Homo sapiens: one gene and its partner. The protein of the gene in region 2 purifies or fractionates together with the protein of the main gene of each other region. This does not show direct contact. Each region holds a gene or a part of one and is shown on either strand. Other genes may lie near its edges.

Region 1 (7,027 bases), on a different chromosome or scaffold from region 2:
ACTCTAGAATGGCATTAAGCAAGTCACTGAACCGCTCAGAGCCTCTGTTTCCTTATCACTAAAAGTTAGGACAATTCTTGCAATGAAATGAGATACTACTACCAAGTACTTCAGTGCTGTGCCCAGCACAGAACGAATACACTCAGTATGTTTTTCTTTTGTTTCTTCTGTCTCTCCAGCACCCAAAGCAGAAACAGTATGGGCAGAGAGACGCCTACTGAATCAGGTGTTTATCAGTATTATGAAATACAGTATATAAAACCCAGCATTTGGAGTCCAGAACAAATTCAAATTCTGGCTCAGTCACTAAGTAGCTATGTGGTCTTGGGCAACTGGCTTACATTTTGGTAATTCTCTCAATATGCAAAAATATTCTCTCGGCCAGGTGCGGTGGCTCACGCCTGTAATCCCAGCACTTTGGGAGGCAGAGGCGGGCGGATCACTTGAAGTCAGGAGTTTGAGACCAGCCTGGCCAACATGGCGAAACCCTGTCTCTACTAAAAATACAAAAATTAGCCAAGCATGGTCATGCATGCCTGTAGTCCCATCTATTTGGGAGGCTGAGGCAGGAGAATCACTTGAACCCAGGAGGTGGAGGTTGCAGTGAGCCGAGATCGAACCACTGCACTCCAGCTTGGGTGACAGAGCCAGACTCTGTCTCAAAAAAAAAAAAAAAAAAAAAAGAAAAGGAAAAAAAACTCCTGGCAGACATGAGAGCAAAATCGAGTACGAAATGGGCAGCTGGGACCTCATATCTACTGAATAATTGTCTGTTTGGAGGTTGAGACATGACTGGGGAGGCCTGGCCTGCCCCTGTGTTAGGTGATGGGGCTGGCCCACCCAGGGGTGTGGCAGCAGGGCTGGCCCCTGTGTGACTTGTGATAACCCCACCCTACCAAGGAGGAAGACTGGATAAAATGGGCCCCTGAGATGGCTGAAGGCAGCTAAAGGGGCCTAAGAGACTATGGGGAGAAGGGCAGCCAGTTCCTAGGCAGCCCTGCCCCACTGTTTCTGATAAGCAGGAGGCAGTTGTTCCCTCAGCCTCCTGAAAGCAATGAGGAGTTGAGGCCACGGGAATGCAGCTTTGGATTCCAGAAGCCAAGGACCTGTTACAAAGGTGGTTTTCTGGGAAGCAAATTAGAGGGATTAGACCTGGCTTCGACATCTGACTTGACTCCAACCTACCAAAGGATCTCCCAGTTCACCTGGGAGTTAACACACCAGGGTTCTAGTCCTTTTGCTCGCTGTGTGGCTTTGGGTAAGTCCTTGCCCCTCTCTGGACCTTGAGGTCCCATTCATACAAAAAGCAGTTGGACTCAGGCCTGCCAGCCCCCATTTTTGTGGCTCTTCCCCGCCCCTCCCCATCCTTTGGCTATGGGATAGTCTCCCAGGCACCTCCAAAAGGAAGTGTCTAAAACAGAGCTCTCCACCTCCTCTCCAAGCCCAGCTCCCCACTGCCCTCTTCCTGCCCTGTCCCTGTCTCCGCTGCCCTTTAGATCAGGCAGGCAGGCAGGCCTAGAGCATCCGCCCTGAGACACTGCCTGTTGGCTGCCTTAAGACGCCCCTTCCTTCTCTGCCCGCAGCCTCCCCAGCCTCTGCATTCCTCTGCTTCCTGTCTGCTCTGCTCAGCCTGCAGGATTGATCTTCCCAAAGCCAGGTGTCAACCAGGCCACTAACCCTACCCACTGCTCAGAAATCTTCCCACAGCCTCAGCCTGGCCCCCTCTTATCCATCCCCTCCATACACACTTGCCTCAGCTCCTCAAAACAGTCCACAGCCATCCTCCTTCCCCACCTTTGCCCCTTTCTTCCCTTCCTAAGGAAATATTGGCCCCCTTCTCTCCACCAGGCTGAACCCACTCATCCTGCAAAACCAAGTTCAACGCCCTGTCATTTTCTTTTTTTTTTTTTTTTTTGAGATGGAGTCTCACACTGTCGCCCAGGCTAGAGTGCAATGGGTGCACTCTCGGCTCACTGCAACCTCTGCCTCCTAGGTTCAATCGATTCTTCTGCCTCAGCCTCCAGAGGAACTCTGACTACAGGTGCACACCACCACACCCAGCTAATTTTTGTATTTTTATTTTTATTTCTATTTATTTATTTATTGTGAGATGGAGTTTCTCTCTTGTTGCCCATGCTGGAGTGCAATGGCACGATCTCGGCTCATTGCAACCTCCGCCTCCCAAGTTCAAAGGATTCTCCTATCTCAGCTTCTGAAGTAGCTGGGATTACAGGCATGTGCCACCACACCCGGCTAATTTTTTTTTATTTTTAGTAGAGATGGGGTTTCACCATGTTGGTCAGGCTGGTCTCAAACTCCTGACCTCAAGTGATCCACCCACCTCGGCCTCCCAAAGTGCTGGGATTACAGGCGTGAGCCACCGTGCCTGGCCTAATTTTTGTATTTTTAGTAGAGACGGAGTTTCACCACATTGGCCAGCCTGGTCTCAAACTCCAGACCTCAAGTGATCCACCCGCCTCAGCCTCCCAAAGTGCTGGGGTTACAGGTGTGAGCCACTACGCCTGGCGCCTGTCTTCTTCTAATATGCCTCTTCTGACCTCCTCACTCCCATTGGAGCCATGGCTCACTTCTGGTCAGGCTCCATGCACTCAATCAGCCCTGCCTGCCAGGACTGTAGTGCCCACTTGATGAGAAATCACCTGTGAAAATGCCAGGCATGGTCTGGCACACAGTAGGTGCTCAAGAAACAAATGTTAATGCCCCAGCTTCCTTCTGTCTTGTGTCCACTAATTTGGCATTTGGAGCATATTTTTGTACTTCACGTAATTAAATATTTACTGTGTGCCAAGGTCAGTGTGTGACAGAGCACTGTAGGGGAGGCAAAAATGAACCAACTCTGGACCTTGCCCTGCAGAAGCTCTGTCTACTGGCATGAGGTAAGACAGGTCCACAGATAACTTACATAAGAGAGACTGCAATCTGGACAAGACAGCCTCAGTGGGAGAGGGAAGGAGAACCCTGTAGATTTGGGTGCGGGGAGGCTGTGGGGAGAGCACAGCCTTTCAGGTAAAGGGACAAGGTTAGGAAAGCAAGAAGGTGTAGCTTGTGCTCGTGGAGCCCAGGAAACTCCTTGGGCTAGAAAAGATTTGGTGGCACTCTATACAGTGTATGTGTCTGTCTGTCTATCTAACATGAATGGTACTATTTTCTCCTATTGGTGTGCATTGTACCTAACAAAAAATCCATGTCCCAAGTACTTTTCTCTTTTCTTTCTTTCTTTTTTTTTTTGGAATGAAGTCTTGCTCTGTCGCCCAGGCTGGAGTGAAGTGGCGCTATCTCGGCTTACTGCAACCTCCTCCTCCTGGATTCAAGCAGTTCTCCTGCCTCAGCCTCCCCAGTAGCTGGGATTACAGGCACGCACCACCACGCCCAGCTAATTTTTTTTGTATTTTTAGTAGAGGTGGGGTTTAACTGTGTTGGCCAGGCTGGTCTCGAACTCCTGACCTCAAGTGATCTGCCCATCTCAGCCTCCCAAAGTGCTGAGATTATAGGTGTGAGCCGCCATGCCCGGCCAACAGTACTTTTCTCTAGAGGTAGAATTGCAGGGGATTTTTCTCTTTTTGCTTATCTGCACTTTTCTAAAAGTTCTGCCATGAACACGGGCATTTTTTGTGGAATAAACAAAGTTTAAATGTTGGCTAGATCAGTGCTTCTTTATGCATAAGGAAGGATTAGTTCTTTTTTTTCTATTTCCAATTTATTGATTCTTTGATAAAATGCAATGCAATAAAATTATTATTTTTTTTTAGAGACGTCTCCCTCTCTCACCCAGGCTGGAGTGCAGTGGTGCAATCATAGCTTACTGCAACCTTGAACTCCTGGGCTCAAGCGATCCTCTTGCTTTAGCCTCCTGAGTAGCTGGGACTACAGGTGTGGACCACCACACCTGGCTGATTTTTAAACTTTTTGTAGATACAGGGTCTCGCCATGTTGCCCAGGCTGGTCTCGAACTCTTGGGCTCAAGCCATCCTGCCACCTCAGCCTCCCAAAGTGCCGGGATTACAGGCGTGAGCCACCATGCCCAGCTAGAAAATTACTTTTTTGGCTAGGCACCGTGGCTCACGCCTGTAATCCCGGCACTTTGGGAGGCTGAGGCAGGCAGATTGCTTGAGCCCAGGAGTTCGAGACCATCCTGGGAAGCATGGCAAGACCTCCATCTCTACAAAAAATTCGAAAATTAGCTGGATGTTGTGGTGCACACCTGCAGTCCCAGCTACTTGGGAGGCTGAGTTGGGAGAAACAGTTGAGCCCGGGAGGTCAAGGCTGCAGTGAGTCGAGATTGCACCACTGCACTCCAGCCTGGGCGACAGAGACCCTGTGTGAAAAAAAAAAAAAGAAGAGAATTTTTTTTAAACAGTCATTGCTTGCTCAGATGTTTACTTTAAAAGATAATAATGAACAAGAAGCAGTCACATAAAATACAAGCCCAAATTTTATATCATTAGATTCTGATTGTCATGAAAGTTTCTAAAGACTTACTTTCATTTCTCAACTTACCTTGTTGACCAGCAGGGATTGGTGAACCATGCTGTGAGTAGCATTGGGCTAGAGAGAGGGGAGGCAGGAATCTAGAAGAGCTGTTTTCCAGATGTGACCATCTCCTGAGGACAGGGACCATGTCTCATGTGCCACCCATCACCCCCCACAGACAGAGCCTGCAGCCAATGCCCCAGGAGCCCTCGGTTCCAACCAACTGATGCCCCTGTGCCCACTGGCCCACGCCATGCAGCCCCAGTCCGTTCTGCACAGCGGCTACTTCCACCCACTACTTCGGGCCTGGCAGACAGCCACCACCACCCTCAATGCCTCCAACCTCATCTACCCCATCTTTGTCACGTGAGTCTCCAAGAATGGGCCAGGCCTCTGCTCTGCTGGTTGGGGTTGGGGTTGGGGAGGGAGTGTTGACTGGAGCGGGCATCAGTATGGCTGGGGGTGGCAAAGTGAGCTGTCAGCTTGAAATTCAAGGCACTGGAAGCAGGCTACTTGGATTAAGGACAGGAATCTTAGGAACAAAACAAACTTTGAAAGAACTCATTCATCCCATTTGGAAAATTAGAAGAATAACCCTTGCCTGCCATCCTGAGCTCTTGCAGTAAGACAGAAGCTGAGAAGGTGCTCTGTACATTGTAAAGTGCTATGTACCTGTAAGAGATGGCAGTCATTGAGGCTGGGCACGGTGGCTCACGCCTGTAATCCCAGCACTTTGGGAGGCTGAGGCAGGCGGATCACGAGGTCAGGAGATCGAGACCATCCTGGCTAATATGGTGAAACCCTGTCTCTACTAAAAACACAAAGAAATTAGCCAGGCGTGGTGGCGGGTGCCTGTAGTCCCAGCTACTTGGGAGGCTGAGGCAGGAGAATGGCGTGAACCCGGGAGGCGGAGCTTGCAGTGAGCCGAGATTGCACCACTTCACTCCAGCCTGGGCGACGGAGCCAGACTCCATCTCAAAAAAAAAAAAAAAAAAAAGAGATGGCAATCGTGATTGTTAATAATAATGCAGACATTTACTGAGTACTTACTATCTACCAGGTACTATGCTAAGCACCTACACACATTATCTCATTCAATTCTGAGAGCATTTGTATGAAGAAGGAGTAGCTATCCTCTAGAACATCAGCTCCATGAGGGCAGGGATGTTTGTCTATTTTGTTCACTGTTGTATCATCAGGGCCTAGAACAGTACTTGGCACATAATAAGTACTCAATAAATATTTGTTGAATGAATGAATTAACCACGCATGATATAGATGAAGGCCTAAGGCTCAAAGAGATGATAGAACTTGGCCACGGTCACCCAGGCAGTAAGTGGCTGGGATAGAAAGCAAGGACCTGCCAAATTCAGAGTCCAAGTTCTTAACCACTTAATTCCTTCCTGTAATTACCGTTCTTTTAGTACAGTTGCTAGTGTTGTCACTGTTATTCTTGTTGTTCCTATTATTATTTCAGGCCCTGGGCTTGGCCAGGCAGGGAAGCCAGACACTGGATCCCATCCTCCTCCCACCATCTCCACTTCCATATTTCTTTCCTGCTTCCCAACCATCCCTCTCAGTCGCCCCCGCACCACTGGCCCTTCCCACAGCTACCAATCCATATCCCACCCCCGCTCTTGCAGGGATGTTCCTGATGACATACAGCCTATCACCAGCCTCCCAGGAGTGGCCAGGTAGGAGACGTGGAGTTGGGGGGCCAGCGGGTGGTGGAGGGAGAGATTCCACAGGTGGAAGTGCTGGGAGGCAGAAGCAGACCTAGGAAGTAGAAGATGCGGACAGACAGACATTAGCTCAGTAGAGGAAAGGGTTTCCCCGGGGCCAGAGCTGTTCCACAGTGGAAGGGGCAGCCCCATAAAGTAAAGAGCTACCCATCACCCGAGACGTCGTGGCAGAGGCTGTTGCAGAAGGGAGCTGAACTGCAGATGGGAGTTCAAAAAGAGGGCCTCGAAGGAGCCTTCCACAGCCGAATTCCGGAGCTCTGCTACTCAGGGCCTCAGTCTTCCCTCCTATTTAGTGGATGCATCCCTGCCCCTTCTGTCCTGGGGGCTTGAGCCCTCCTGGTGCCATATGCAGCTTGGTTTCTAACAGAGGCACACAGTGTGGTGGGGTCCGGAGGACCGTTGCCTGGGACCTGCCTTCCTTCAACCCCTCTACCCACACCCACACAGGTATGGTGTGAAGCGGCTGGAAGAGATGCTGAGGCCCTTGGTGGAAGAGGGCCTACGCTGTGTCTTGATCTTTGGCGTCCCCAGCAGAGTTCCCAAGGTGAAGAATCAAAGGAAGGGCTAAGAAGGGAGGTTGCGCTCACGCCCGTAATCCCAGCACTTTGGGAGGCCAAAGTGGGTGGATCACTTGAGCCCAGGATTTTGAGACCAGCCTGGACAACATGGCAAAACCCATCTCTACAAAAAATACAAAAGTTAGCTGGGTGTGGGGGTATGTGCCTGTAGTCCCAGCTACTCGGGAGGTGGAGAGGTGGGAGGATTGCTTGAGCCCAGAAAGTCGAGGCTGCAGT
Region 2 (7,099 bases):
GCCTGCCTCTGCAAGCCCATTGACACCGTTTCTAACTGTCTTTTTTCATTTGGAAATATCAGTGGTCACCTGCTCAGCCACCAGTTACCGCAAAGGGAGAACATACCCCACGTTCCCTATACTTGATCCTATCTCAGTGATCCCGTTGCAATCAGGCATGACAAAGCTAAAATGTGACAAAGTGAAAGGAAATCTGTAAATCATGGTCTTACTCACGTAAAGGCATCAGGAGAGAGTTTTTTGCAATGCTCATTACGTTAGAGTGCAAACATCCTCATCTCCTTCTCCACTGAGGGTGAATAATCACTGTTTATCTGTGTACAGGCAAAGCCAGGGCATGGGATTATGGGGATACGGCCTTGCTTCAGACCACAGACATTCTGCATCCACATAACCTCACCCACGTGTGACTTCTTGAGAGGCAAAGCTTCAAGTCATCCCTTTAACATAATGTGTGACAGAGCTCACTATCTTCCCTAGAGCCCCCCCACCAACACCTTAGCTCTTGTCTATTTCTAGTCACTAGAAACAACACTGTATTTCAAGGATACAACCCCTCCCCAATCAAACTGCCAAATCTTTGAACTGAGACTCAGTGCCATATATATATTTTTGAGGACCATGCTTCCTGGATTTTCTAGCAAGGTTGATTTCAAATATTCTGACTTACAAATCACTAAAATAATATTGAGGTTAAAATAAGATCACCACATAGATATATAACTTTATTCACTGTTTGACATCACTGCCCTCAATACTACAAAGATATCAAAACAGGGGTAGCTTTCTGGACCACTGACTACTACAATGTGTGTTCTATCCATTGCAGGAAAGTCCCACCATGCCAGTGAAAGCTGTAATACACATTTATCTATTCTCTAATGTCTGAAAATGTCACACCAACTGCCTTATAGACCAGATAGTTTATATAAGAACATTATTAGTGTCAATGCTGACTTACACTCTACAATCTCATCTGTGGTCCTGGTGGCATCCACACAGATAACATTAGTGTGAGTGACGTGTTTGTGTATTAACATAGACCTTGAGGGTGACTTTGTTCCAGTCTACCTTGCAGGCACTATAAGTGATCGGCTCCTGCTTACTCCACAGACACTGTGAGTGACCCAGCCCCTGTCTACACTAGAGCTGTTGGTCACCTGTTTGTCTACACCACTGACACTTGAGTAATGCTGCTCCCGTTGAACCCAAGACCCTACGAGTGACTCCATTCCTGTCCATACCACATAGCGACTGACCTCTCCAGACACCACAAATGACGTATTCCTGTCTATCCCACAGACACCACGTGTAACGTGGCCACGGAACCTCAGACAGACCGCGTTAAGGGCACTGATACACTCTCAGGACCTCTAATATATGAACACTCTTCTCTCTATTGAGAATCACTATATTCTGTTGATGAGAGGGATTCCTTTGCACTCCTCCTGATTTCTCTCTCCTCCCCACTAGGACCATGACATACATTCCTCCTGCATATCAGTCTCACCCAGAACTGACACGCCCTCATCCCATCTTCCCAGCTCCCCAGGACTCCTTCACTAGCCATGGCTTCACTTTTAGGCCCACAGATTGGTTAACAAATGACACCCATTTTGCTAAGGCCTATGCCAGGAACTTCTTCATGCTCCAAATGTGGATAAAACAAGACGTCTGAGACAGAGGCCACATCAAGAGCTTTTTAGCTGGAGCTGGGACCTCTGGATTAGGCCCAAGATGCAAGGCCAGACAGTGGAGTGCAGTAGGGGAGCAAGCTAGGGAGGAAGCTCGAAAGGAAAACCACCCTCTCTCATCTGTTTGACACACCCTTCTCTCTCAACCAGACAAGAGTCCTGGCCAGAGTTCACTTCTAGGTAGACAGGAGGGCAAATCTGTCTTTGGAACCCAAGATCCAGGAAGGGAAGAAAGGGACTGAGATCTGGAAATGACGTAGTATCACAACTGGCTCTCCTCCGGTAGTCTTGCCGGAAGGCAACTGCAAAAGATGCTCAGGGGTTCTAGAGCTCTGCGTCCGCATTCTAGCACCCCAACGCCTACCTCAGCCCCCAACTCTAAATAACTTCTTTCCACCTTGCTAAGAATGCAACGTTGTGATTCACATCAAGCTTTAGGAGGCTCCCCATATGTAGGGAACTGGGGTGAGGGGCAGGGCAGGATTCACTGTTCCAGGTTACGGAGCTTTGGTTAACACGGAGAGAAGCTACACATAGACTCACACAGTATGCAAATACCTATGGAGATACATAAGGAAAGGCCCCGGCCTGGTTAAGGAAAAGGAGCCGATAAAACCTCTCCAGGTAAGGAACAGCCTAGAAAGGGAATCTCAGTTATTCCTTCTGATATGGCTTAGCTTTCCCCAGGGCGCCTACTTTGAAGAAAGAGCCCTGATTATTGGCCCGGGGAACGTCTGGGGGCAGGGTGCCCATTTCCTAGGCGGGACCCGACCGGAAGCAAACTTGTAGGCAACAACATTTCCTCTAGTTCCTCTCCTCTTCCCCACCAGGGTCCTCAGCCACACACCCCGAGCCCTGCCTGCGGGCCCAGCCCCCCCATTTCCGGAGCCTGCGCCCCGGACCCAGCGGGGGCTGATCCCTGGGAAAGGCCTGGCTTCCTCTTCCTTCCTGTCCCTGCCCCACCTCCGCCGGGCTCCACAGCCGCCGGGAGCCCAGGGCCGAGACGGGAGGAGGGCACCCACCTGGTCGGTGTCACATGCTGCTTCGGCCCCAGCGTCCCCTCCAGGTCCCGGCGCCGGCCGCAGTCCCCAGAGCCGTCCCCAGCGCAGGCCCGGCCGCCCCACCCGCGGCCCGCCCCTGGCCGCCCGACGGGAGGGAGGGATCGGGTTCTCCTAGGAAGTTTCAGGTGAGGAAACAGGGACACACCTTCCCGGAGGAGGGGCAGGGCCCCTCCGCGCGCGAGCCCCATTGGTGTGAAAGAAGCTCCCGCGTCAGAGCTGGGAAGTGCCGGGCCGGCGGAGAGGGGAGCCCGGGCGCACGGGCCAGGCCGCGGGCTGTCCCAGGGAGCCCCGAGGGCGCGGTGCGCGGGCGCAGGTCGGGCGCAGGCGGGGTGACCCGGGGAAGGGGCGCGCACAGAGACAGAGGGAGCCAGCCGGGCCCCACGGTGTCCTCGGACGCCTCCGAAATCTCCCTGCGTGTTTGTTTCTTCGGAGCTTCACCGGAGCCTGACTCTGGAACCGGCCTGTCTGCCTGCTGCAGTCTGTATGTGTTTGTCTTTTGCCTTGGCCGTGCCTCTGGAAGTCTGACATCCGTGGTTGTACATGTGTCTTTATCTTCAGGCCTCATTGGTTTTTGGTTTGTTCGTTGTTGTTGTTGTTGTTGTTTTTTCTGAGACGGAGTCTCGCCCTGTTGCCCAGGCTGGAGTGCAATGGCGCGATCTCGGCTCACTGCAACCTCCGTCTCCGGGTTCAAGAGATTCTCCTGCCTCAGCCTCCCGAGTAGCTGGGATTACAGGTCCGCGCCACCATGCCCGGCTAATTTTTGTATTTTTTAGTAGAGGCCGGGTTTCGCCATGTTGGCCAGGCTGGTCTGGAAACTCCTGACCTCAGGTGATGCACCCGCCTCGGCCTCCCAAAGTGCTGGGATTACAGGCGTGAGCCACCGCGCCCGGCCAAGGCCTCAGTGTTGATTTCTCTTCCGTGATGTCTCCTCCTATAGAATAAAGAGTGTCTCCTCCATCTCCTCCTCCGCCCCCTTCTTCGTTTCTCTCTCTCTCTCCCTCCCTCCTCCCCCCTCCCTGTCCCTCTCCCTGCCTCTTCCTCTCCCCTCTTCCTTCTCCTACTTAGGGCCTAGAAGTGTGCCTCTCTGAAAGGACATGCCCGTGTCCTTCTGTATTCCCGAGTTTATTTTAGAATGAGTGCGTATCTCAGGGTGTATGTTCCTTCTAGGGCCTGTGTGTGTGTGTGTGTGTGTGTGTGTGTGTGTGTGTATTTAAATCTCTAAGCCCATGTTTGTGTGTTTTCTTATGCCTGTATTTTTTTTTTATTCTTTCAGGGAAACGTTTTGTTCTGTTAGTCTTGGAGGCCAAGGCTGAGTGGGTTTATCTCTGTGCCCCTCCAGTGACTTCAAAGAATGCCAAAAGTCTCTCGAGTGTGCCTGTGTGCACACACAGACACACACAAAGTAGGAATCCTTTACCTGGGGGACAGAGATTTCTGTTATTTTTGGTTGAATCTGACCACTCCCCAAAGCCATTCACTACTCCAGGGGTTTCCATGGTGACATAAGTCAAGTGAAATATTAATGGACTCCTTGCCTATTTAGCTCTTAGGAATGCCATGGTCTACAGCCCAAACAGCTTGGCTAGACCATTTCTAGATCACTGTGCCCATTGGCTGTTGCCAATGATCCTGGTTGAACGTGTTCACTAGTTATTTTGAGGTGGCTGTAGAATAGAATGTAATTAAGGAAGTATAGCCTCTTCTGTAATAGAGTCCTGAACAGCTTTATGTTAAAAAAGTGTGCTACTTCTGCCATGTTACTCTGAAGGATTAAGTCTTAAACAGTTCAGCAGTTTTCAGCCTACTCTAAGCTGCCATGGAGTGTATGGGAAACTATAGGAAAAATTGGGATTAAGACTCAAAAATCTGGATTAAGAAGGGCAGGCCTTGCATGTGTCCTAGGCTCAGCAAAAGGGTAAGAACTGGGAGTACAGAAAGGCAAAAAGTTCAAACTGGGACTGGCTCTACTTCTAGGCTGGAATACAAAACTCATTCCCAGGTATGAGAGGGTCCTTGATTTATACCGAGTGAGCAAAGTGAGTAAACTTCTGATCTAGGGCAGAAGCTGTTGACCTCTGGGTCGGGTGCGGTGGCTCACAACTGCAATCCCAGCACATTGGGAGGCCTTGGCCGGTGGATCACCTGAGTTCAGGAATTTGAGGCCAGCCTGGCCAAACATGGCGAAACCCCTTCTCTACTGAAAATACAAAAATTAGCTGGGCTTGGTGGTGGGCACCTGTATTCCCAGCTACTTGGGAGGCTGAGGCAGGAGAATTGCTTGAACCCAGGAGGCAGAGGCTGCAGTGAGCTGAGATTGCACCACTGCACTCCAGCCTGGGTGACAGAGTGAGACTCTGTCTAAAAAATACAAAAAAAAAAATTGTTGACCTCTGGCATATTTCATGCTGCCTACTGGGGGTGGGCAATGGGGTCAGAGGTACCAGAACTGCCTCCTGAACCAGCCTGGCTATTCTTTCTGCTTCCCTCCAGCTTCAGTTGGTTCTCCTTGATTACAGTGCTCTCTCTCTCTCTCTCTCTTCTCATCAACTCGACCTCCTCTTGTTCTGCCAGCTCTGACTTGTCAGCATATTTTTTTTTGAAGTCACAACCCTGGATTCTTGTGCGCTTGTCCAGAGAGTTAGCACACAAGGCTTTTCCTGACTTTTCAACTAGTAGGAAAGTTACAACCGACCATTTAGGGAGTTTGCTCTTCCCATCAAGCCTGTTCCTGTCTGCAGGGTGTATTTGCATGTGGAGGTCACTCTAGCTCTCCCAGGTATTCTTCCTTTCACTTTGCAGACTATGGTTCTCAGCATTTTATTATTTTTTTTCTTTTTCATTTCTTGCTGCGTGGTCTTGGTGACTGGGTTTCTTAATCAAGCCTGTCATCCCATCCTGAGATTTTGATATTTTATTTGGGCCTATATTTCCTCTATAAAGGCCTAGAGAGGAGAGAGAATGATGCCATGGAAAGAGAATGAGATTTAGATTCAGACAGGGGTAAATTTGAATCCTGCATTCCATTTACTTAATGTGAAATCTTGGGCATATTCACCTTCCTGTGCTTTCTCTGAATCTTCTTACGTTTCATTTCCCTAATGTCTTAATTGGGGATAATAATATGTAATGATACCTACGTCACTGGATTGTTGTGGTGATTCAATACTGTAATATATAGAAATCACCTTAGTATAAGTACCTGATGTGTAAAGGTGGTCAAGATGGGTTAGTTTCCTTTCCTAGCAGTGCCTGTCAGTGATGCATGTGGAATGAATATATTTATAAGAACAAAGTGATAGGGGCTGGGAACAGTAAATAGATTCAAAATAAAGCTATTTTAAAATGAAAGCCCTATTAGACGAGGCTGAATAAAAATAGCTTCTGGAACTTGGGACTACTTTAATTGACAATAATGCCTTTAAGATCAAGTTATGGGGCTTGGGGAGAGGCAGGGAACAATCCCGTATAGTTCTAGGTATCAGGACTAAAGGAATGACAATGACCTTTTTTGAAGCAGGAACTCATCAGCATTATCCCTGGGGCTGTCATTGTCCTGACTAGATACTGTCATGGTGCCACTATCCCACATGACTGGCTGCATTGTTCCCACGTGGTGAACTCTCTCTGACTCTCAGCTGGTCCAGTGCTAGTTCTTGGAACACTCCTAAGGCCTTTCTGCCTCTGCTTTTTGCCTGATCCTGTGACCCAACATTGAACCTTTCGAACTGATTTTGAACTCAGTTCTTCTTTTTTTTGAGATGGAGTCTCGCTCTGTCGCCAGGCTGGAGTGCAATGGCGTGATCTCGGCTCATGGCTACCTCTGCCTCCTGGGTTCAAGCGTTTCTCCTGCCTCAGCCTCCTGAGTAGCTGGGATGACAGGCATGTGCTGCCACACCCGGCTAATTTTTGTATGTTTAGTAGAGATGGGGTTTCACCATATTGGTCAGGCTGGTCTCGAACTCCTGACCTCATGATCTGCCTGCCTCGGCCTCCCAAAGTGCTGGGATTATAGGCATGAGCCACCGTTCCTGGCCCCAGTTCTTCTGTTAATGGGGCTGACCGTGGTCTCTCCATTCATCTCTGTTGAAGCCAGGCTGGCTTGACCACTGTGGTTCTTAGCTATCTTCTTCTATTCTGTTTTTTTGTTTTATTTTATTTTATTTTATTTTTCAGAGATGGAGTCTTGCTCTGTCCAGCCCAGGCTGGAGTGCAGTGGCACGATCTAGGCTCACTGCAACCTCTGCCTCCTAGGTTCAAGTGATTCTCTTGCCTCAGCCTCCCCAGTAGCTGGGATTACAGGTGCGCACCACCAAGCCTGGCTAATTTTGTGTTTTTAGTAGAGAT

Evidence for each region. Proteins that work in one complex are often made in the same cells at the same time.
Region 1: the proteins of ARHGEF35 (region 2) and ALAD purify together in Homo sapiens (co-immunoprecipitation; 3 studies listed by BioGRID and IntAct, with this or other methods). This does not show direct contact.

The regions. Positions count from the first base shown.
Region 1 is NC_000009.12:113,391,277-113,398,303, reverse strand, and holds part of ALAD (delta-aminolevulinic acid dehydratase), read left to right. Parts: exon of another isoform or gene 1-226; intron 227-1,029; exon of another isoform or gene 1,030-1,258; intron 1,259-1,848; exon of another isoform or gene 1,849-2,846; coding exon of another isoform or gene 2,847-2,897; intron 2,898-4,666; exon of another isoform or gene 4,667-4,669; coding exon of another isoform or gene 4,670-4,744; coding exon 4,745-4,857; intron 4,858-5,968; coding exon of another isoform or gene 5,969-6,134; coding exon 6,135-6,185; intron 6,186-6,680; coding exon 6,681-6,777; intron 6,778-7,027.
Region 2 is NC_000007.14:144,192,822-144,199,920, forward strand, and holds the start of ARHGEF35 (rho guanine nucleotide exchange factor 35), read right to left. Parts: upstream 3,013-7,099; 5' UTR 2,717-3,012; exon of another isoform or gene 2,500-2,716; intron 1-2,499.